Linked DNA regions of Homo sapiens: region 2 is linked to region 1. Evidence: fine-mapped expression QTL. A gene starts in region 1. The other region holds a variant in brackets. All regions are shown on one strand. Distances are between the middles of the regions.

Region 1 (12,237 bases):
AAGAGAAGGGATATGCCTAACCTTCAAGTCTAAAGGAGGATAACAATGCTCTCTGTCCCTGTACCTGCCTTGGTGTCGTTTTCATTACAAAGCTCTATGATTGTGTCAGATATACCATGGCCAGTAAACTATGGCTGTTCCGATGAACAATCAGTATTACTAAGCATTTTCCAGAAAGGCTCCTAATTAAACTGATACCAGTAAATAAGGTATTAGAGAAACTTTTCAAAATATTAAAGTTTTTAAAAAATTGTCCAAACTATAGTTCAAAATCCAGGAAGAACAATGAGAAAGTCTGAGAAATAGGAGTACATAAAAACAAACTTTTATATGAAAAAGTGCCATAAGCAAAGTTAACTGACAAATGACAACAGTACCTGAAAGTTTTACCACAAACGGTTAATTACCCAAATATATAAGGAGCTTATAAAAGATTAGGCAAAAAATCTATAGAAACATGGGCGAGAGGTATAAACAAGCAATGCACAGAAAAATACAAATGACAGTAAAAATATGAAAAGATGTTCAACCTTGCTCATAAGAGAAATACAAATTAAAACTACAGTAAGTTACCCTTTCTTCTGTACCAGATTAACCAAAAATTAAATGTTTGATAATACACTCTGATGACAAGGCTGTGGGACAACAGGCACTCATATACATAATAGGTAGGAATGCAAAATGAACACAACTGCTATAGAGGAGACTTTGGTAATACCTAACAACTGATATATGCATTTACCCTTTTATCCAACAACGCTACTTTTAAGAATCTATCCCACAGGCTCATTGGCAAAAATGCAAAACAACATATCCACAGGGATATTCACTGCATGACTATTTGTAATAGCAGAAAATAACACAAGTGTCTATCAAGAGGGGACGAATTAAATATTCATCCACCAATGGAGTACTACGAAACTGTAAAAAGGAATAACAATCTCTACATACTCCTAAGGAGGGGATCTACAGGACATATATCACTAGGTGAAAAACCCAAGATGGAAAACAGTATACATAATAGCACATTTTACCTAAGAAAGAAAGGTATGTTTGTCCATGTAGATTTGCTTTTAGGTATGTGTTTTTTTAATGGAAGGATAGACTCAAAACTAGTAAAAACAGTATCAGTAAGGAAGGAAAATAAGCAGAGTGGAAGAAACAGAGATGAAAGCTAAATTGTTTTATGGGTACTTGTTTTATGGGAATTATGCTAAGGTTTTGCATATAATAAAACAAATCAAAATGGGGAAAAAAGCAGTACTGAAAAATTGGAAACAAAATAAAATAAATCAACTACCAACTAGATATCAACTTGATAGGCTAACTATACAATAAATTACTTCATATGCCTTTAAATACAATAATTTTACTATACACTTTCCTAGAGACATATAAAATAAGGATAAAAGACAGTTGCAAAGAAATCCTAAGCACTATTCAGGAATCATATTGATAATAAAATAGCCTGTTAACTTGAAACCATTATATATAACATAGGATGAGGAAAAAAAACTAATTCTATTAATGGCACTAGGCACCAAGACTCAGCAAAAAAGATACAAACATAAATCCAACGTGTGAAAAAACTGTAAAATTAAGTTTAAATTTTGGAAATTTAAATGTTAAATGTTGGAAACAATGCGAATTTTGCATATTTGTGTTTTTTTTAATATATAATATTTCCTAACTCTGGCCACCATAAATCCTAGAACTAACGACTAACCTAGTAGCAAGAACACCTCTCCCACCTAGGTAAGACTGTGGTCTCCAAATACTATCTCAGACTCAAAAGAACCACGGCTCCTTGAAGACCAGAAATCTATAAATGAGCCAGGAAAATTATTTACCAGAAAGCAAGGAAATTACCAAAGCTATTGGTCATATCAAATGGAATAGGAGCCAACTTTAAGGAGCTCCCACTGGCCAAAGATGAAACAATTTGAGTATTAAAAACACAACTGCCATATGTTGAAACAGTTTAAATATAAAGTCTATAAGTTCATGATTATAGGTTTACAAAAAGGCAAAAACCCTCATGGTTACCTTTGGAGGCTGCTAGGCCACCAACTCATTACTGTGGTCTGAAAATAGAGGCAAAGAATTAAGCATTTTTCTTGCCTTTCCTGTACAAATTGTATTTCAGGGTAGTCAAACAGCTGGAAAGGGAAAGTTCTTCATAAAAGACTCTCAGTTGATAAATATTGAAGAAATAATAGAATTAGATAATCACCACGTTGCAACCTCTAATGCAATAACGGATACAGGCAATATAACCCCACAAAAGGACTTCACCACTAAGTGAAAGAGTCTTGGGGAATTTCACTATGGGTGGATGGAGCTAACTACACCTAAACCCAATATAATGTTTAATGTTAACATCATAAAAAAAGAAAACAACTCAGACACTGCTTCCCTGATAATTAATGAAATAGGAAGTATACTGCATTACCTATGAAATTATCTGTCCAACCCCCCCAACTATCCCACCAAAAAACAAAACAAAAACAAATATAAGGGTGAAATCTCATCAGGCTTCTAGAGCAGTGCTGTTCAATACAACTTTCTGCAATTATGAAAATATTTTATAACTGCACTGTTCAAAAAGCAGCCACCAGGCAATCTGTAGCTACCGAGCACTTGAAATGTGGCTAATGCAAGTTAGGAACTGAATTTTTTTTTTTTTTTTTTTTTTGAGACAGTCTCGCTCCGTCACCCAGGCTGGAGTGCAGTGGCGTGATCTCGGCTCACTGCAACCTCCACCTCCCGGGTTCAAGCGATTCTCCTTCTCCTGCCTCAGCTTCCTTAGTAGCTGAGATTACAGGCGCATGCCACCACGCCCGGCTAATTTTTCATTTTTAGTAGAGACGGGGTTTCACCATGTTGGTCAGGCTGGTCTCGAACTCCTGACCTCGTGATCCACCCACCTCAGCCTCCCAAAGTGCTGGGATTACAGGCGTGAGCCACCGCGCCCAGCCTAGGAACTGAATTTTTAATTTTATTTCACTTTAATTAACTAGCCACTGCTGGCTGGTGGCTACAATACCGGACAGTGCAATTCTACATCTAACTACTGGTTTAGAGCAGTGGTCCCCAACCTTTTTGGCACCAGGGACCTGTTTCATGGAAGACAATTTCTCAACACCGACAGGGCGGAAATAACACATTTTGTAAATATCTTTTTGTTAAAATTCATATGAAATGTTTTGGGGGAGGAATGGCCAAACCACTTTTTTTTGTTTTTTGAGACCGAGTCTTGCACTCTTGCCTGGTCTGGAGAGCAATGGTGTGATCTCGGCTCACTGCAACCTCCGCCTCCCGGATTCACGTGATTCTCCTGCCTCAGCCTCCCGAGTAGCTGGGATTACAGGCGCACACCACCACACTCGGCTAATTTTATTGCATTTTCAGTAGAGACGGGGTTTCACTATGTTGGCCACACTGGTCTCAAACTCCTGACCTCATGCCCACCTCGGCCTCCCAAAGTGCTGGGATTACAGGCGTGAGTCACCGCGCCCGGCCAACCACTTCTTCAGTAATATGAATAATACACATGGACAGGGTTAGGGGCATGGTTTCAGGATGAAACTATTCCACCTCAGATCATCAGGCATTAGTCAGATTCTTATAAGTGTGCAACCTAGATTCCTTGCATGCGCAGTTTACAATAGGGTTCGTGCCCCTAGGAGAATCTAACCTCACGGCTGATCTGACAGGAGGCAGAGCTCAGGTGGTAGGTAATGCTCACTAGCCTGTCACTCACCTCCTGCTCTGTAGCCTGGTTCCTAACAGGCCACGGACTGGTACTGCTCTGCGGCCCCGGGTTTGGGGGCCCCTGGTTTAGAGGACACAAAGGCAACAGAGATACATGTTAAAGGATACTGTGCGATGCAATCTGCTAAATTTAGAACTGTAAGGAAAAATAGGGGCTAATCCCATAGCTATAACTATGAGGGAACAAATATAGATTAAAAGATGTCAAATGTGCATCACCCAAACACAATAGGCAGATCCCTGTGGGATTTTGGTTCAAACAAGCTAATTGTAAAAAGACATTTAAGAGACAGTTGAAGAAATCGTTATCTGACTGGATATTGACATTAGAGAATTTTTATTAATTTGTGTATGTGTAATGACAGTACTGTGGCTCTGTAAAACTGAAAAACCTAGCTCCTGATGGGGGCGGGGAGGCGGACTAAAATAACATAAAGATCGGAGATTCAGTTCCTGAAACCTTCTGTCAATGTTGGCTTTAGCTGAATTTCAAGTCAAGTTGACATTTTTTGAAAGCAGGAAGCAATGACAGAGTGGACTACTGATGCTGTCACCATCTGCCAGCACAACATAAATTAGAACAGAAAGGACTAAGCAAAGGTCTTCCACCATTTTAACGAGAGGAAATGGCATCAGTACAATCAACATACACAATTTTTACAAACAACTTTTAGATTTGCATCTACATACATTTTAAAAGGCAGTGTGCCTGTTTATAAATCTCTACTCTAATTTAGTTTCAGAGCTTTTTACTACCCTGATCACTGATAATGCCACAGTCAAAAAGCAAACTCAAAATAAAAATCAATCTAAAAATGGTACTGCATGCCAAATAAGAAAATATATACACTTTATCATTAAGCTACAGCTAACAGAAATCTAATCAACGATCCTTATGATTTCCTCGTATCTAAAAAATAAATGCAAGCACTTGAGGAACTGTATAAATACAGGGCATCTACCCTACAATACTGCTTTATTAAAATAATAAATTCTTTTAATAAGTTTAACCAGACATAAGGCTCAGGGAAAACTACTCTGTGCATATCAGCGTACGGTGCTGAAACTGTAAAAGACGACCTGTCTCTGACATCATACTCATCTTTACTCTCCTGATGTCGTAAGGGACGTAAGAAAAACCACATTATAAGCCTAAATGTACTGTCTTCAAGTATCTCCATGATTAAAGTGTTCCTAAGAAACCGTCCTTATTTCTTTCTATCCCTCATTTGTGTGCATGGAGCCGTTAGTTCAGGGTTCTCCAATTTCAGTCCACGATTTATGCCACATTTCCGTACCTCTTGTACTAACATAACCGTTTAAACCAACTCACTATTTTAAAAGCTGCCAACCTTAACATGCCACACTAAATGAGCGGGTCCCCTTGTGCCGTGAATGAAGTAGTCCCAACAGCGCTAGCTAGACAGCAGCCCTGGCAGGGAGGCCGCACTGGGGTCTCTCCGCTGAAAAGGAAGGTGGGTCCGCCGGGGAAGGTGAGTACTGGGCGCAGCTCGCTCGCCCACCTGGCCACTCTCCGAAGCGCCCCCAGCCACCTGGACTCCGAGGAAGGGCTGACCACCTGGCGGGGCCGAACCCCACGCCGGGCTGCGCCACGCCAGACTCCGCCAGTGTGCAGGGCATAGCGGGCCAGGCCGAGGGACTGGGCTTCGGGGCGGACCCAAGCCGGCGGGGACGCGCCTGGTGGTTCGCAGGCCGTTGCGCAAACCGGCCGCAAGCCATGAGGCCGCGAAGCCAGAATCACCAAGGCAGCCTGGGCCGCCTCCAGACCAGGACACGGCAGCCCCTTGCCCCTCCAACTTGCGCACCGGCGGTTACAGGGTTGCCGCAAGCACGCCCCTGAGCCTTCCCGCCGTTACCTCGGGCCGGCGCTGCGCACGCGCGCCACCGCTAAGCTTACGTCCAGCCTCTGTAGTCGGCGCGTTTGTTCCGCCCACTGCCCCCACACTTTTAATAATTGAAACAATGCCTTCTCCAGACTTCCCCTGCACGCGAGCAAATGAACTCACCCACATCCGGGAATCCGAGGAAAGCGAGTGCAGACACGTGATGCGGGGGAGGGGGGGGGGGCGTGGCAGGAGCAAGCGTCTGCCGCGGTGGCCGGGTGCCGGTAAGGGTTTCCAGCGCCCCCGGCCTAGGTTTTGGAGGCGCGGGAATGCGTTCGTTGCTCAGTGTCGGACTTCCCCCTATTCCCATCGGCCGAGGCTGTCACTTTACGCTCATAACCGTTTTTCTTTACTGCACTCGTGTCGGGAGGAAAGGGACTTGCGTGGCACCCCCAGACCTCCCCGTCTCCGCTTCCACGTTTGGTACATCCTGCCTGAGGCAGGAAGCCGCAGCTGAGGGACGGCCTGTCGTACGGTGCGGATGGTGGTGGCCTGCGAGGCTCATTTCTAGCAAGGAACAAGGCTTTCCCGCTTTGATTTTATAAATATTATGTTTACAAAGCTGTAATATATAGAAATTGATAAGACGTGTCCCTGTCCCTGGAAACGCAGGCACCGCGTGTTTGGAAAGACATTCATCTGGGCTGTTTGACAGACTCCCCAGTTGGTGCCATGCTCTGTGCTTAGGGAACTGTGAGACCCCTGGAGGGGTGGGTACCGGGACCGCACTCAGCCTGGGGTTTGGAGGCGGCCTCCTATAGGAAGCGACCTGGGACCTAAGATTTTTAGACTGACTGTGGGTTCACTGGAATAAAAAGGAAGAAACAAAGAGCATTGCAGGCATCGGGACTGTCACGTGAGTAAGAAAAGTTTGTTCAGGAAACAGTGGTCGTACTGGGTGACGAGTACTTGGGACGGTGGCTTTAATACACAAGATAATCAGTGTGCCCTGGGCATTGATTATCTTGATGCTTCCCATCCTTCCAGCCCCTTATGAGGGAAGGCACCTTCGCGCCTAATCCCGGAAATGGGATGTTGACCTTCAAGAGCTGACGCCTGCGTTTATCTTGAAAGGAAGAGTGGCATTAGTGATGTGGAAAAGGGGGTTTTAACTGTCAAGGCTGGAAAATGTGACAGGGTTGGAGGTGTTTGGAGAAGGGACAGGTGAAAAAGATTGAGACCAAATGTGGAAAGATCTACTAAGGAATCATGGGTACAAAATGTACACGTAACAGTTGGAGGCAATAATACCTGAGCAATTGACCACAAAGCTGACCTAGCTTGTTTAGTAGATTAAGTTAGGACAAGAAGCAAGAGTTCAAGGATAGAAGGCCTACTGAAGCTCGAGTGATTTGAGAAAACTTTACAAAGGTGGAAAATCTACGTGGGCCTCCGAAAGTCAGGTTTGGATCAGCTGAGGAAAGTGAGAAGGGTATCCCAGGAGACAGAGCAGCAAGGACAAAGGAGTAGCAGCAGGAAAGTGGGGAGCACTTGTAAGACAGGGACTTCAAAAGTATAACCAAAACTTCGTCTTGCTTTGAGTTATCCACTGGGTAGTACTCGGTTAATTATTGAGTACTGGATTAATTAAGCCCTCACCTGGCTCACCGGTGACAGAAGTAGCAGGGCGCATTTTGCTTAACTTTTGCCGAGATCCTTGTCATGGGGGTGTAAACCCTTTCCCACACCAATCTGTGTATAATTTTTGCCAAGGTGTTAGGGATATCTTGCAGTTATCCTATGGGGGACAGCTGTGAGCCTTTTTGGTTTTTTTTGTTTTTTTTTTTCCGAGACGGAATCTTGCTCTGTCGCCCAGGCTGGAGTGCAGTGGCGCGTGGCGCTATCTCGGCTCACTGCAAGCTCCGCCTCCCAGGTTCACGCCATTCTCCTGCCTCAGCCTCCCGAGTAGCTGGGACTACAGGCGCCTGCCACCATGCTCGGCTAATTTTTTGTATTTTTAGTAGAGACGAGGTTTCACCCTGTTAGCCAGGATGGTGTTGATCTCCTGACCTCGTGATCCGCCCACCTCGGTCTCCCAAAGTGCTGGATTACAGGCGCGAGCCACCGCGCCCGGCCCTGTGAGCCATTTTTACAAAAACTTCCACCTGCCTTGGCCCAAACCTCAGCGTTCTTAGGCACAGGAGCTCATGAACATACTGAGATAACACTAAACTGGACTATGCGAAGGGACCAACTACAGACCTGACACAAATCCTCAAGGCAAGACGATGTCTGAAGTTGAGCTTGTAAAGGAAATGGCTTCCTTCCTTAAAATATCACCCAGGCTGAGCTCTGAAAAAAGCACCTCCAGATGGTGGGTTCCACCCCGCTCCACCACCCCAAAATTGCTTATTGTGTGAGTCTCCATAGTCTCAGAAACTGAGAGTACCTTTGATGCCAGTGGCTTCCGGGCTTTTTGGATTGTCACTTGGTAGCAGGGAGCACCCATAGGATGATGCCTATGATGAGTCAGGGCCCAACCTTGGAAACAGGGAAATCCAGAAGTATCCTACAAGCTAGCCAGCCTTTTGGATTAGATTATAGCAGTTTCAGAGAAAAATGGGGAATCAGCCATGGTCAAGGAGCTAAATAAGCATCGTGACCATTTGGGCCAGAAATTGAAGGGAGTGTAGCGTTAAGAATTAGAGGAAGGAACCTCCGAGGAAGGAGCTACCCCAAAGGGAAGCAGAAACTGGAGAAACTTTAGCAGTATGAGGTTCTACCACTGGTGTTCACCTAGAAGTGCTTTATTCAGATCTCAGCCTGGGTACTATTTTAGGGAAGGAAGCCGTTTCCTTTACAGTATGTTCGTGTGACTCCTGTGCCTAAGAATGCTGAGGTTTGAGCCAGGGGCTAGAAAGGAAACTTAGCTGGCCATTATGAATCAGGGACTCATCAAAGGCATCACAAACAGGAAAAGGTGAATGTTCAAGTTAGAAGAGAAGAGCTACATTGAGATGCAACATATTAATATTTGAGGGCCTCGTTTAACGTGTTGCTCTCCTGTCACACTCTATGACACTGGTCTGTCAGCTGGGCTATGCCTGTCCAGTATACACTATAAAATATGTATCAGTTGGGGTTGGAGAGAGGAACTGTGATCAAAGTAGTCACCCGGCCCATATGAGAAAATGAACCTTTTCCCAAAAGGTGGCCCCAGACTAAAAAGCCTGGAGAATCCTAATAGTGGATTATACCATCTCTTCAGTCTTCGTGTTTAAGAAATAACCTCTTTGGCTTACAGATTTGACAAGATCAAAGCTGCAGGAAAATGGACAGTGAGGTTCAGAGAGATGGAAGGATCTTGGATTTGATTGATGATGCTTGGCGAGAAGACAAGCTGCCTTATGAGGATGTCGCAATACCACTGGTAGGTTATGATTTGAGCTGAGGATGGGTTAAAGGTATTGATCTGGCAGTAACTAGTGGAGGAGGGATATCAATGGAAGATAAACTAGTGTGGCAAAGAAATCAAAGCTGTGGAATTCTCTAACTCTAGAAGCTTCTGGAGAGCATCCAGTTGTATGTTTTATTTGAAGAAAAATGTGGTTCAGGGAGCTAACATGGCCAGGTCAGTTAGGAGTCATGCCAGGACTAGAGCCCCGATTTTCTGAGCCATGTTCTGTCCACCACACGAAAACCAGAGAAACCAAATAATGAGAGTTTAATGCGCAAGATGGGGAAGAACAAGAAGCAGCAGCATATGAGCTCTGTTTCTTACTTCCCTGCCTGTGGCTCATCAGTCTTTCAGCATTTTTAGAAACTTACATTCTTGGAGCATACACCTATCTTAGGTTCCCTGGAAAATATTCAGAAGATACCTGGGTATTCTTTTGCGTTTAGGCCAGTGGCCTTCTGGAATACTCTTTTCTTCCCCATCTTTGGAAAACTCTGCTGCAGGGAGTTTGTTAAACCTCATGTAATAAGTGATCCAAAAGTTTTGCTTATATAAATGTTTGTTTAAAATCCTATTTATGTCATAGAGGCCTAAAAAAGGGAAAACAGGACTGTTTTTCTTTAAAGCATGCCAGCTGCCCTGAGAAGAGTAGTTAGTATTGAATAAAATATAATTTATAGTTAGAATATCTGCTGTTGCTGTTTGCAAAGAAATAAAATAGTTCATCTGTATTTTCATTTACGAATAAGAGATAGTAATATGTTCAATGAATAATATACATATCAAATAAGTCATAGCTTAGTTCAAGCTTAGGAAAATAGTCAAAAGAGAGAGCATAATAAGAATTATAGATGTCATTTATTGAATACCAGTTTTATGCCATGGACTGAGGTTGGAAATATACATTATCTCTAATTCTTAAACAACCCTGTGAGGGAGGTGCTGTTATTCCCATTTTATAGGAAAAGAATAGGATCAGAAAGGGCAACTTGCCCAAAGTCTGGTAGCAGGTAAGTAGGGCTTCATATAACATATACCTAGGTCTGTGAAGTTCCAAATCCTGTCTTGTGAACTTCTGTTCATTCATTCATTTGACAAGCATTTTTTGAAGCCTACTGTGTGCCATAAGACTATGTGAACATAAGATACAGTTCCTCCTCCTGAGGGGTCTAGAAAGGCAACACTTATAGATAAGTAATTGTGATAATAAATATTCTAGGTGGGGGCATAAACAGCCACATCATATACGAAGTGGCTGATTGCCTGGTGGGCATCAGAAAGGCTTCTGAGAGAATGTCATGTTTAAGCTGGGTCATAAGGAAGGACCAGAAGTTTAGTGGAGGTAGACAAGGGTATTGCAGCAGAGGGGACAGATGTGTAAAGGCCCAGAGTTTTGAAAGGCTTTGGGACATGGTGAGTCATTCACTGTGGATGAAGAATACATTTGTCACATAAGTAGGCTGAAAAGTTGGGCTTGGATCAGATTGAGAGTGGTATTTGATATCACACTTAGACCTCATCCTCAGGAGATCCAGGAATGAATGGTCTTAAAAGCAAGACTGCTATGCTCAGATTTGGCTTTTGGAAAATCAGTTTAGCCAGCATTGTTAGAGATGGTGTGACATGGAGATAGGGGCAAGTGAGACCAATTGGCAAGCTGTTGTGGTCTAGGCAAGGGAGGAGGGCCTAAACAAAGTCAAGAAAATAAAGGAGACGTCCATTTCTGGAGAAGTTTATGGCTCAGATTGGAGAACATTTGGGTGGCAGGGGTGGAAGGAGGTTTCCCTGCTGACTTCCAGGCGAAGTTGGCTTGGCCCTGCTGCTAATCCACACCTTTCGCTTGTCTTGCGATTCTAAGGCAATGTGTATGCCAGTTAGGTTTTGCTGCATAACAAGTCACCCCAAAGCTTAGTGACTTAAAAGAGCAACTGTTTATTTCATGATTTTGTAGCTCAGCTGGGAGGGACTTCTAGTCTGCACCAGCTCAGCTGATCCCTGCCAGGCTTGCCTGTGTTGTGCAGTCAGCCAACAGACTCTGGAGGCTGGGTAATCTAGGACTGTCTCACATGTCTGGCAGTTAACAAGCTGTCTGCTGGGTGATGGGGTGACTATGCCATGGTCTCTGGTATCCAGCAGGCTAGCCCAGACTTCTCAATCTCAGGGTTCCAAGAGCAACCTGAGAGGAAACGGCAGAGCTTCTTGGAGCTTAGGCCAAGAACTGGCCCACTGGCATGACAGCTTCATTCTGTTGGCCAAAACAACTCACAGGGCCAGTCCAAATCCAAGATTGGGGAAATCAGTTTCACCTTTTGATAAGAGTAGCTGCAAAGAACTAAGGGCATTTTACAGTACACCATAATGGGTGGCTGGGTTTATGATACTTTTGTTTTTGTTTTCCAGGCATATATGCCATTTTATGTGTTGGCATGTATTGCAAGGGACAGTAGATACCAAATGAAAGACACATTATTTTAGAAAGCATACCACAGATAGGATGAAATTAAGCAACGTTGTCTGCTTCTGAATTAAAGAATTCATTAACCAAGGACCTATTTATTCTTTGTCATCTATAAGTAATTATTAGGACTGAACTTTCTTTTTAAGTTTAAGATAATATATTATTGCGTTACAATAAATGATAGCTCTTCTCAATCTGTTCAAGTATGTTTGAATCTGTCTTGTAGAACAAGATGTATGTGATTCAAATATAGATAAGTAAATATCATTTAATATATATTGAGCATAATTTTAGAGGGGAAAACATATTCACATACTACAAATTAGAATCCAGTGGAAAATTTTAAGTCTGGATATCGCATAACAGTTTGCTAACCATAAAACAAAACACAGATAATTGAAAAGAAATATATTGGTATCTGTGAACTCTGGTACAAAGCAGAGTTTCAGTAGTAATACATTTAAACTTAAAATACAAGTAAATGATCCCAGATCCTACAGTAAGTGTGGCCCATGACTTACCATTTTAAGAAAATTGCTGGTAGGGTGTGAATTGGTCATTTGTTGTGTTTTTTGTTGCTCTGCTCCACCACTAGAGGGAGGTCTTATCTATTAATTACATTTTCAGTGTTTCCTGCCCTACCTCCATTTTTATTATAATATAGACATGTTGGGCCAGGCGCGGTGGCTCGCGCCTGTAATCCC
Region 2 (12,237 bases), 65 kb before region 1:
AATTACTACAGATAAATGAATATGAAAGGTAATATGAAAACTGAGTAGCGAGCACACATCTAGCTGTCTAAAGAAAGAACAGTATTACCACTATTATTGATAGCTGGAAGTTTCAGGAGAAATTAAGCTGAACAGCATCTCTGGTCATGGTCTGGCTTAAGTTCCCCTGAGAGTTCTCAATTCTTAAATATGAACAGATAATCACTGCATAAGATAAGAGTCTCTCAACCAAGTACTGCTGAATCCTAAGCCTTTACAGAATTCTGTGGTGTAAATCAGTTTAGTTCTTAGAGTTCTCCACTACTAGCTTAGTATTGACTTTATTAGGGGATATCAAGTTCCCTCCCTCCCTTCCTTCCTTCCTTCCCTCCTTCCCACTTTCCCCCTTACAAAATGTTTAGCTATTGTCTCCTCTCCTATTATTCCCAACCTCGTGGGTTTGCGCTTTAAAAATAAATCCTTTCGAAAATTTTCTCCCATTTTGTAGGTTGCCTGTTCACTCTGATGGTAGTTTCTTTTGCTGTACAGAAGCTCTTTAGTTTAATGAGATCCCATTTGTCAATTTTGGCTTTTGTTGCCATTGCTTTTGGTGTTTTAGACATGAAGTCCTTGCCCATGCCTATGTCCTGAATGGTATTGCCTAGGTTTTCTTCTAGGGTTTTTATGGTTTTAGGTCTAACGTTTAAGTCTTTAATCCATCTTGAATTGATTTTTGTATAAGGTGTAAGGAAGGGATCCAGTTTCAGCTTTCTACATATGGCTAGCCAGTTTTCCCAGCACCATTTATTAAATAGGGAATCCTTTCCCCATTGCTTGTTTTTCTCAGGTTTGTCAAAGATCAGATAGTTGTAGATATGCGGCATTATTTCTGAGGGCTCTGTTCTGTTCCATTGATCTATATCTCTTTTTTGGTACCAGTACCATGCTGTTTTGGTTACTGTAGCCTTGTAGTATAGTTTGAAGTCAAGTAGGGTGATGCCTCCAGCTTTGTTCTTTTTGCTTAGGATTGACTTGGCGATGCGGGCTCTTTTTTGGTTCCATATGAACTTTAAAGTAGTTTTTTCCAATTCTGTGAAGAAAGGCATTGGTAGCTTGATGGGGATGGCATTGAATCTGTAAATTACCTTGGGCAGTATAGCCATTTTCACGATATTGATTCTTCCTACCCATGAGCATGGGATGTTCTTCCATTTGTTTGTATCCTGTTTTATTTCCTTGAGCAGTGGTTTGTAGTTCTCCTTGAAGAGGTCCTTCACATCCCTTGTAAGTTGGATTCCTAGGTATTTTATTCTCTTTGAAGCAATTGTGAATGGGAGTTCACTCATGATTTGGCTCTCTGTTTGTCTGTTGCTGGTGTATAAGAATGCTTGTGATTTTTGTACATTGATTTTGTATCCTGAGACTTTGCTGAAGTTGCTTATCAGCTTAAGGAGATTTTGGGCTGAGACAATGGGGTTTTCTAGATATACAATCATGTCGTCTGCAAAGAGGAACAATTTGACTTCCTCTTTTCCTAACTGAATACCCTTTATTTCCTTCTCCTGCCTAATTGCCCTGGCCAGAACTTCCAACAGTATGTTGAATAGGAGTGATGAGAGAGGGCATCCCTGTCTTGTGCCAGTTTTCAAAGGGAATGCTTCCAGTTTTTGCCCATTCAGTATGATATTGGCTGTGGGTTTGTCATAGATAGCTCTTATTATTTTGAAATACGTCCCATCAATACCTAATTTATTGAGAGTTTTTAGCATGAAGGGTTGTTGAATTTTGTCAAAGGCCTTTTCTGCATCTATTGAGATAATCATGTGGTTTTTGTCTTTGGCAACCTACTCATCTGACAAAGGGCTAATATCCAGAATCTACAATGAACTCAAACAAATTTACAAGAAAAAAACAAACAACCCCATCAAAAAGTGGGCAAAGGACATGAACAGACACTTCTCAAAAGAAGACATTTATGCAGCCAAAAAACACATGAAAAAATGCTCATCATCACTGGCCATCAGAGAAGTGCAAATCAAAACCACAATGAGATACCATCTCACACCAGTTAGAATGGCAGTCATTAAAAAGTCAGGAAACAACAGGTGCTGGAGAGGATGTGGAGAAATAGGAACACTTTTACACTGTTGGTGGGACTATAAAGTAGTTCAACCATTGTGGAAGTCAGTGTGGCGATTCCTCAGGGATCTAGAACTAGAAATACCATTTGACCCAGCCATCCCATTACTGGGTATATACCCAAAGGACTATAAATCATGCTGCTATAAAGACACATGCACACGTATGTTTATTGCGGCACTATTCACAATAGCAAAGACTTGGAAGCAACCCAAATGTCCAACAATGATAGACTGGGTTAAGAAAATGTGGCACATATACACCATGGAATACTATGCAGCCATAAAAAATGATGAGTTCATGTCCTTTGTAGGGACATGGATGAAATTGGAAATCATCATTCTCAGTAAACTATCACAAGAACAAAAAACCAAACACTGCATATTCTCACTCATAGGTGGGAATTGAACAATGAGATCACATGGACACAGGAAGGGGAACATCACACTCTGGGGACTGTTGTGGGGTGGGGGAAGGGGGGAGGGATAGCATTGGGAGATATACCTAATGCTAGATAACGAGTTAGTGGGTGCAGTGCACCAGCATGGCACATGTATACATAGGTAACTAACCTGCACAATGTGCACATGTACCCTAAAACTTAAAGTATAATAATAAAAGGAAAAAAATAAAAATAAAATAGAACAAAAATAAATCCTTTCATGACAGTTTTAGAGGGATTTGAGGATAGAGCAAGATCAGATGAGTGTTTTCATCTGCCACCTTCAATGACAGTGTAATATTCATAAAATCAAAAATTAACCATTGAAATAAATATAGTTTATTTCAAAATTTTGGATATTGCGAACAATACTTCAATGACCATTTTATGCACACTTGCTCCTAGAGAATGGTTTCCATGGGAATGTAAAAAGATAAGACCATTCTGAAAACAATTCAGCAAGGACTATCAAAATCAGAAACACACATGACCCAGGAATTTAGAGGCTATACGTATTTACGCATTTGATGGATATTGCTAAGCTGTCCTCTAGAAAGGCCGTATCAATTCACTTTCTCATTGACAGTGCAATAAGTCTGTTTCCTTACATCTTTCTAACACTGGCTATATATTAGTTTTTAAAGGTTATTATCAAACCAATTAGTAAAAGAATGTCTATTTTGCTTTATTAGAGAGGTTGAACAGTTTTCTTTGTTTACTAGATATTTATATTAATTCTGTGAGGTATCTATCTACATTCTTTGCCTATTTTTCTACTAGATTATCTTTTCCTTATTATCTTTGTAGGGAATTTTTATATATTAATAATTTACATTAACCTTTTGTCTGATTATAAACTGTTTTCTCCCTATTAGTCTTTTTTAATAGGGCCTTTTACCATCCAGAAACTTCACATTTTTATGTTGTAAAATCCTCTATGGCGTCATGATGTTTGGAGAATCTTACCCTTCTGAAAGATTACAAAAATAGTCCCCCATTTTTCCAGTTGAAATAAGGTACTCTATAATAGTCTTTTGCATGTTCTTCCACCCCAGTATCCACAATCCTGGATTGTGAAATTAGAATTTTTCAGAGCAAACAGGGAGCATGTTGGAACCATATATCTTTTTGGAGGAATACTCTCTGGAAATGCAGGAAAAAAGCATTTATACAATTTTCAGACATCTGACCTACACCAAGAAAAGATGGGTCAGAATAGATGAGTCATTTTGCAAATTATAGGAATTTTGTAACAAAACAGTTAAAAGAGCATCTATACTGTAATTCACTGTTGGCTAATCATGTTCTCTCTGGTTTCACAGAAGCTTGTATGCATTTCTTATCCTTGCTACTAGATTACTCTAGTCTCTTAAAGGCTAGAGTAATTTGAGTAATTGCAGCTGATCCAAAATCTCTCTTAAAGGCAAGAATGCTATCTTATTCAGCCTGTGTTCATTATAGCACCTACTAAAAGTCCTTGGATATAAAAGATTCTAAAATATTTTATTATGTGAATATCTTGTAGAAATAAAATTAAAATTAAATTATTTTAAAGACAATATACTTTCTAAAAAGATAACAAACATAATAATCATTAACAATAATAATAATAATAATAATACCACCATCTAGGATGTATTGCATACTTACTAAGTGTCAGGTACTATGTACTATATGCTAAGTCCTTCATATACATTCTTCCAACTAAGAACACAGACTGTAGGTAAATTTTATCACATACATAATATAAAAAAATACCTTCCTGGCCGAGCACGGTGGCTCATGCCTGTAATCCCAGCACTTTGGGAGGCTGAGGCGGGCAGATCACCTGAGATTGGGAGTTCGAGACCAGCCTGACCAACATGGAGAAACCCTGCCTCTACTGAAAATACAACATCAGCCAGGTGTGGTGGCGCATGCCTGTGATCCCAGTTACTCAGGAGGCTGAGGCAGGAGCATCATTTGAACCCGGGAGGTGGAGGCTGCGGTGAGCCAAGATCACGCCATTGCACTCCAGCCTGGGTAACAAGAGTGAAACCCCGTCTCAAAAAAACAAACAAAAACCCTTCCTGCTGCTGGAGTGGAGAGTCATATTTTGCTCACTTCCAGTATTGTTTTACCTTCATTTTCTTTGAGAAAATTTCTGCAAAAGGATCTAAGTTGATCTTAATTCTCTCTTTATAATGTAAATATTTACAAAGTAATTTTTTTGAAGGCTTGGATAGTAGAAAAACTTAAGTTTCTATTTATGTACCTCATGTAAACCCAATTCCAATTTCATCACCATTTCAGAAAGATGACGATTTTCTAATTTGAGTGACTCCAGCTGATCCAAAATCTCCTGAAAAGGGGAAAACAGAAAAAAATAAATATAACATGTAAATCACATGCATCTTACAAAATTTTTCCACATGGAATTTTCATTAGGCTAAGTCATATTCTTCATTTATATATATATACATATACATATTTATATATATATATACATATATATATGTACGTGTGTGTGT[GTATATATATATATA/A]TATATATATATATATATGGACTTTCTAAAAAGATTTTTAAGATGTTATTAAGGTGAATGAACATGAATGGGATGAAGATATCATTCTAATAGGATAAATCAGGTGACAAAGCAGCAAAGTTTCAATCCACTGAACCCCTTAAATCCCTACCCATTCTCCTGTGCTGGCCTCCTCCAATTTGGCTTCTACCTGCAACGTCACATGGAATTGTACTTTATTCACAAAATAACAACTTATATTCAGTTCTCATTCCCCTCAGCTTTTGTGCTTGACCATTCCCATTTGAAAATATTCCTTCTTTCCTTGGCTTGGCAAAAACTATCTGATTTCCCTCCTCACTGCTCCTTTTTTTAAGCTTCATTCCAACATCTTTTTTACACTAAATGAGAAGTATCCTAAGTTTGGTTTGAGTCACTTCTCTTCTTACGCTATGCTTTCTCACTATAATCATTAAGTCTCTCAGGGGGTTTCAAATGTCACCATGAAGAAAGGACAGCCACAGCTAAATGCCTAATCCTGATTTTAATCTTCAACTCCAGGCCTTCTGTGGAATTGACTATTACCCATACAAAATTCCAGCCTTTATTCCAAACAAATGTGTCAAACCAATGTCCTCTCCACCAGTTTCCCCAGTCTGTGTACTTTTCACACAAATTCATCATCCTTCACCAAACTTGCTCCCTGTCTTTTCTCTATTTCATTAAAAAGCATCACTTTCCATCAGTTGCCTAAGTTTAAATCCTGTGGAGCACCATTCCTTAACTCTGCCTACCTCACCTTCCCTGCCAATCAAATACAATGCCCAGTCATTTTTACCAGCCCAGTATCTCCAGAATTCATCCATTTCCCTCTGCCTCCCTTGCCCACTGCTCAGGCCACCATCTTACCACTGTAACAGCATCTGGGTGCTCTGTCTCCCTGCTTATTCTCCATTTAAGGACCACTGAATTTTACTCCTGCTTGCAGCCATTCCCTACTGACCTCAAGGTCACAGTATAACTCCTTTACGTGGCTAACGTAGCCCTTCAGCAGCCAGTCCCTGCTTTCCAGTCTCATACCTTCCACTCATCCCACTTGTACTCTAGTTTCAACCACAGCAAGCGTGTTTCTACTCTCTCTTAGAGACCTCTGTATTTTCCTGTGCCTGAAACACTTTTCCTCCCCATCACCCAGCTTGCTCCTAACTTAGCTTTGCTATCACACCTTCTGGAAGGCCTTTGCAGCGAGTGGTCTAGATTCAGGCTGCTTGTGATCTCTAGTGACTCTCACCATACACCACTGATACAGTCACTTTACTTGTCTGTGTCTACTCTCACCTCCCCACCATGCTCACTAAACTCTTTGCTAGCCAGCATACTCTCAGCTCAAAGCAGGTATCTAATAAAAATTCACTGAATTAAATATTATGAAAATTATGTCTTTAATCAACTCCATCTTTAAAACAAATTTCAAATTTAAAAAAGGTTTTGTTCAGGCTTCACCTTATGCTCTACTGCTTTGTCTTCTGCCTTTTGCATCTCTGCTCTGAGTCGCTTTTCCATGTCTGAGGAAGAACCTTTGGTGGAAGCAATAGTGATATCTCGCTGATGTAACTCCTGAGTTAGATGGGAGATTTCCATCTTCATTCCTTCTAGTGCAGAACTGTAACTTTGTTCACCCTGTAAAATCTGTTCTTTCAACTATAAAGAAGCAGAAAAGAAAGCACCAAAAGTTAAGAGAAAGCATTTAGATAGAATAATATGTTACTAGCTAATAAAATAAAAGTTCACCTTATCTCAAGACATTAAATTTCTCTTAAATTAAATCTGCAGAAAAATTAGCAATTTACCAAGTTGCATATCTGTACTGAAGGTCAGGTGGTTATACCTACAATCATTTATTATACCTCAAAACAGGGAGAGATGGGTTATTCAAGTGCTGAGGACCAGAATCAAGGTCCATGCACACAATTTAGAGGAGAGTACTTGTGACCTTCATTCTTTTTTTTAGTTGTGAATCTAAAAGTTTTGCTCATATGGTATCTTAGTCCACAGGATAACAAATAGAACAAGAGGAAGTAAGGAACTAGAAGTAATCTTAAAGAAGTAACAAAAAATACAAATCAAACAAATAGGACAGTTAGGGCCCATTCATATAGACACAAACAGCTCTGCATACCTCAATAGCTGACAAGGATACTAACTACATCATAGCACAGGAGACAATACATAAATACTATCTTTAGGCAATAAGAAAATATTAAGTGACAGTTCATATTTTTTTGCAAGCAACAGAGTGTATGTCTTTTAGAAAACTTTTCATCAAAACATGTTTAAAATAAAGTTTTTGAGTTCAAAGGGGACAGCCTTCAATTATCTTAAAAATATTTATTGGGCATCAGGGGCGATGCCAAAGAAAGAAGGCACTTTCCCTATGCACATTCCACAAACTCTTCCACTCCTAAATATCAAGTGGTCCCTTGAACTACATTTTTTTCTCATTAAAAATAACCCCTATAATCTCCCAATCCACAGCTTTGTCCATAAACACATACAATTTTGCAATCCTAGGTATGCAGATTTTTACCTTCTTAATCTCTGCTTTGTATTCATTGTTATGTGCTTCCATCCTCTTCAGTTCTTCATATTTTTCCATTAGTTCTTGGCTCAGCTGTTTACACGTTGCACTCACAGATTCCAAACTGTATGACAAAAATAAGATCCCATACTTAAAACCAAAATCCTGAAACCTATAAATTGGACTATCTAATTTACATTCTTGATATCCAAAAAATATCCAGCCAATATCTTAAACATCACCTCAGTCATTTAAAATATTACTAAAAAGCCAATCAATAAAAAAACTGTGATAAAAATGTAAACTGTTGTCCCAACGTCAAAAATAATAAACTTAATTTTAGTCAAACGGAAGAGTACACATATACTTCAATAATAACAAAGACTATCTCAAGTACTCCAAGTATTCCAAAAGGAATAAAGCAGAAAATATGTGTGTGTATGCATGTTTGTGTATTTAACATGTAGATAAAAGTAAGAAAATACTTACTGGTTTCCAAAACCAGAAATAAATGTAAAAACAAAAAATGTATTACTTAAAGATAACCTAAAAAGTGTAAAATGATATTTCTCTTGTTGTTTGCCTAAAGGTTAACAGTTCATGTTAAAAGCAATTTTATCTTTTACATACAGAAAATGTCAGTGTACAAATGATCATGATTCATGTGTTTAAAACAAGATATCACACTCTTCCCAATCAAAAAGTTGAGAGGTTATGAAAAACCAAAAAAAATTCTATAAGTACGACAATGACAAGTGTTTAGGTGGGTATGGTATAGCATTAGTCAGGATTCAATTAACACCCAAGGAAGTAACAACACCACAGCAGAACAAAAAGGATCACCATGTGTCAACTGTTACCCCTTCCTACCCTGCTTCTGAGGTGGCAAGGAGGAAAACCTAAGTGAAGGGCTGCTAAACAGGTGAAAGGTAAAGAAGTAGAGTCAGTATAGACAACTCTTTTGAAGAATTTGGTCTTAAAGAGAAGTACAGAAATGTGGAAATAACTTGACGGAGACATAGGATTAAGGGATGGTTTTTCCCCCAGATGGGTGATGTTACAGCGTATTTTATACCAGTGGATAGATTCAGCAGACAGAAAGAACTTGATGATGCAGAAGAGAAAGGATATAACTACAGAAAAAGGACACAAGTGGAGTGGTTGGTCTTAGAAGTGCAGAAAGGCACAGGTATGGGCAGACTGGTAGATTTGATGACAGAAAGATTAAGAGGTTCTCCTTTAATTGCTTCTGTCTTCTCAATGAAATAAGAACTTAGGGCAGGGTGCGGTGACTCATGCCTGTAATCCCAGCACTTTGGGAGGCCAAGGCAGGTGGATCACCTGAGGTCAGGAGTTCAAGACCAGCCTGGCCAACATGGTGAAACACCGTCTCTACAAAAATATAAAAATTAGCCAGGCATGGTGGTGCACGCCTGTAATCTCAGCTACTCAGGAGGCTGGGGCAGAAGAATCAATTGAACCGGGAGGCGGAGGTTGCAGTGAGCTGAGATTGTGCCATTGCACTCCAGTCTGGGTGACAGAGCGGACTCCGTCTCAAAAAAAAAAAAAAAGAAATAAGAACTTAGGCCATTTGTGGATACTAGAAAAAAATCTTATTTTTTTTACTATGACTATTACATTCATTTACAATATGATGATCAAAAATTCATTTTAACAACTTGAAATTTTTGAAATGTGTGTATAATTATGTACCTGCCTTCAAGACAAGTCACCTCTGCCTGCAGAAGGTCCTCACTAGTATGGGTAAAATTCAACTGGGAGAGCACACTGTCTAAGTCCCCCTGCCCTTGAGAGGTGTACTTCTTTTCTGCCAGAGATTCTTCCCGTGGCCTATGGAAAGACATAGGATGATTGTTAACGCCTTTATCTCTGCAAACAAAAATAATGCTCATCTAGTCTGTGTTTCCCCATCATTTTTGGTAACCTCTTTGGAACTCTTCAAGTTTGTCTCCTGCTTTATAAAAAGAATATTGGGAGAGGAAAGAAAGAGTCAAGAGATGCTGATACTTCAAAAAGTAGCAATTTACTCCCTTCTTAACTGGGATTTGGCCTTTTTTCAAGGGAAAAAGACAAAATGGCAAAATCACTTCAGTGACACTTGAAACCCTGTACCAAAAAAACTGAAAAGTTACAGGAGAATTCTGGCAAAAATAAAAGTGTGCATCAGACTTAAATCAAGCAAGAGGGCTAGCCCAATGGCTGGCTGCTATTAATGATAAGCAGCTACTAATCACAACTTATTCCACCAACAAAGTGAGGCCTCCAGGAGACATGGATGACAATTCCCTGCACATTTGGATTTTCACCAAGCATGCAAACTGACCTTGGTTTCTAACTTTCTAAACATGAGAGTCTCTGTTAGGGACCCTAACTGGTGGCAGAAGAAAATTAACCACACAAAATTTTATAACACTTTAAAAACCTAACTCAGAAGTTAAAGCCAATTAAGAAAATCCACAATATGATCAAACATAAAATTATGAATATGCAATATGAAAACTAGTGCTTGGATGGGCGTGGCAGCTCACACCTGTAATCCCAGCACTTTGGGAGGCTGAGGTGGGCAGATCACCTGAGGTTAGGAATTTAAGACCGGCCTAGCCAACATGATGAATGCCCGTCTCTAAAAATACAAAAAACTAGCCAGGTGTGGTAGCATGCACCTGTAGTCCCAGCTACTTGGGAGGCTGAGCCTGGAGAATGGCTTGAACCTCGGAGGTTGAGGTTGCAGTGAGCTGAGATTGCACCACTGCACTCCAGTCTGGGCAACAGGAGACTATCTGAAAATAAAATAAAAATAAAAATAAAAATAAGCCTAGTGCTTAATACCTAGTCATTAAGTGGCTAAGATGAATAATATTTAAGATTAAATTTACCTTATAGCTTCTACAGCATGTTGAGTGTTAGTTGCCTTTACTTTTTCTTGTAACTTCTCCTTTTGTATTCTGGCCTCATGTATGAGATTTTCTTGAGACTGAAGAGCTGCCTTCAATTCTCTCTTTTCTTCCTGCAGAGCCTGCAAAAAAGTCAAATATGATTATAATTTTCCTTCTTTTTAATTCCTGCAGAACCTGCAAAATACTCAGAAATTTCTAAGCCAGCTATTATTACAATTTTTCTATTTCACGAGAAGCCAGGAAGTCAGACTATAAGTTACGTAACAATATTACAATATTGTAAATATTGTAATAAAGTCACAATATTAGTAAAACTATCAATATCTGATCCATCATTTATAAAGTAGGGAAGAAAGTATGGATTGTAGAACCTAGTTCTAGCTTAATAACACTCTCTTAAAATACTCATACACACACTTCCCCCAATTATAGTGATTTTAAAACATACCTCTAATAGTTTTTCAGATTCCCTCAATTTTTCTTCTTTTTGCTGCTGCTCCTGTAGGACAGTCATACTGGTTCCAACCAAGTCATTGACCCTCATGGTGAGGCGCTCTATTTCCAACTCATTGGCACAGATAGTGTCATTAGCCCGCTCCAGTTTACTGCTTAAGTGTTGAATTTCTGATTGGCTAGAAAGTTCCACAGACTCTAATTTCTGTTTCCGATTGACAAGCTGAGCCTAGAAACACAGACTATCAATCAATAGGTAAAAGGGAAATGATAAAATAATCAATGAATAAGACTAAAATGAAACTATTATTTCCATAAAAACATAAAGCATTGGCTCACTAAAATATATATATATATATTGCGAAGGGGTAAGAAAGAATTGAGAGGCTGGGAGTGGTGGCTCACGCCTGTAATCCTAACACTATGGGAGGCTGAGGCAGGCAGATCGCTTGAGCTCAGGAGTTCGAGATCAGCCTGGAAACATGGCGAAACCCTGTCTTTATAAAAAATACAAAAATTGGCCGGGTGCAGTGGATCACGCCTGTAATCCCGCACTTTGAGAGGCTGAGGTGGGCGGATCATGAGGTCAGGAGATTGAGACCATCCTTGCCAACATGGTGAAACCCGTCTCTACTAAAAATACAAAAATTAGCTGGGCGTGGTGGCGCGTGCCTGTAATCCCAGCTACTCGGGATCGGGAGGCTGAGGCAGGAGAATCACTTGAACCAGGGAGTTGGAGGTTGCAGTGAGCCGAGATTGCGCCACTGCACTGCAGCCTAGTGACAGAATGAGACTCTGTCTCAAAACAAACAAACAAACAAATAAAATACAAAAATTACCCGAGCACAGTGGCATGGGAGGATCACATGAACCCAGGAAGCGGAAGTTGCAGTGAGCCAAGATCGCACCACTGCACTCCGGCCTGCGTGACAAAGTAAGAACCTGTCTCAAATAAATAAATAAATAGAAAAGAATGGATAAAGTAAAGGGATTCCTCAGGAGAAGAGATGCTACAGTATTCTACCTACTCACACAGAAATTCAACCGCAACCTGGCTGGAATTATTTCCTATTTAAAACATAGGAAATAGGAACTATAATGCATTATTATATTTCTGATGGAAGTTTAGAAATTAGAATTTCAAAATCACTAAATTTGTAGTTTAAATTCCCCCCCCCACCTAGAGCATGTTGTAATTATTCTGTTTTAACATTATAAACATTCA

Evidence for each region. PIP is the estimated chance that this variant, and not a neighbour inherited with it, causes the effect.
Region 2: its variant is fine-mapped to the expression of CEP63 in whole blood (INTERVAL, PIP 0.98).

Annotation. Positions count from the first base shown.
Region 1 is chr3:134,479,617-134,491,853 of GRCh38, reverse strand. It overlaps CEP63 (centrosomal protein 63), which reads right to left and starts at 5,797. Exons shown (of 15, transcript NM_001353108.3): 1 at 5,652-5,797. It overlaps ANAPC13 (anaphase promoting complex subunit 13), which reads left to right and starts at 5,869. Exons shown (of 3, transcript NM_015391.4): 1 at 5,869-5,902; 2 at 8,923-9,048. The coding sequence starts at 8,950. RefSeq lists enhancers at 4,865-5,683, 5,775-5,884, 5,965-6,064, 6,095-6,214.
Region 2 is chr3:134,544,590-134,556,826 of GRCh38, reverse strand. It overlaps CEP63 (centrosomal protein 63), which reads right to left. Exons shown (of 15, transcript NM_001353108.3): 7 at 11,008-11,241; 8 at 10,539-10,678; 9 at 9,355-9,492; 10 at 7,651-7,765; 11 at 6,567-6,764; 12 at 4,815-4,901. Among named protein-coding and RNA genes, the nearest start is that of CEP63, 65 kb to the right of the region's middle. The variant GTATATATATATATA/A (reference allele first, on the strand shown) is at 5,071.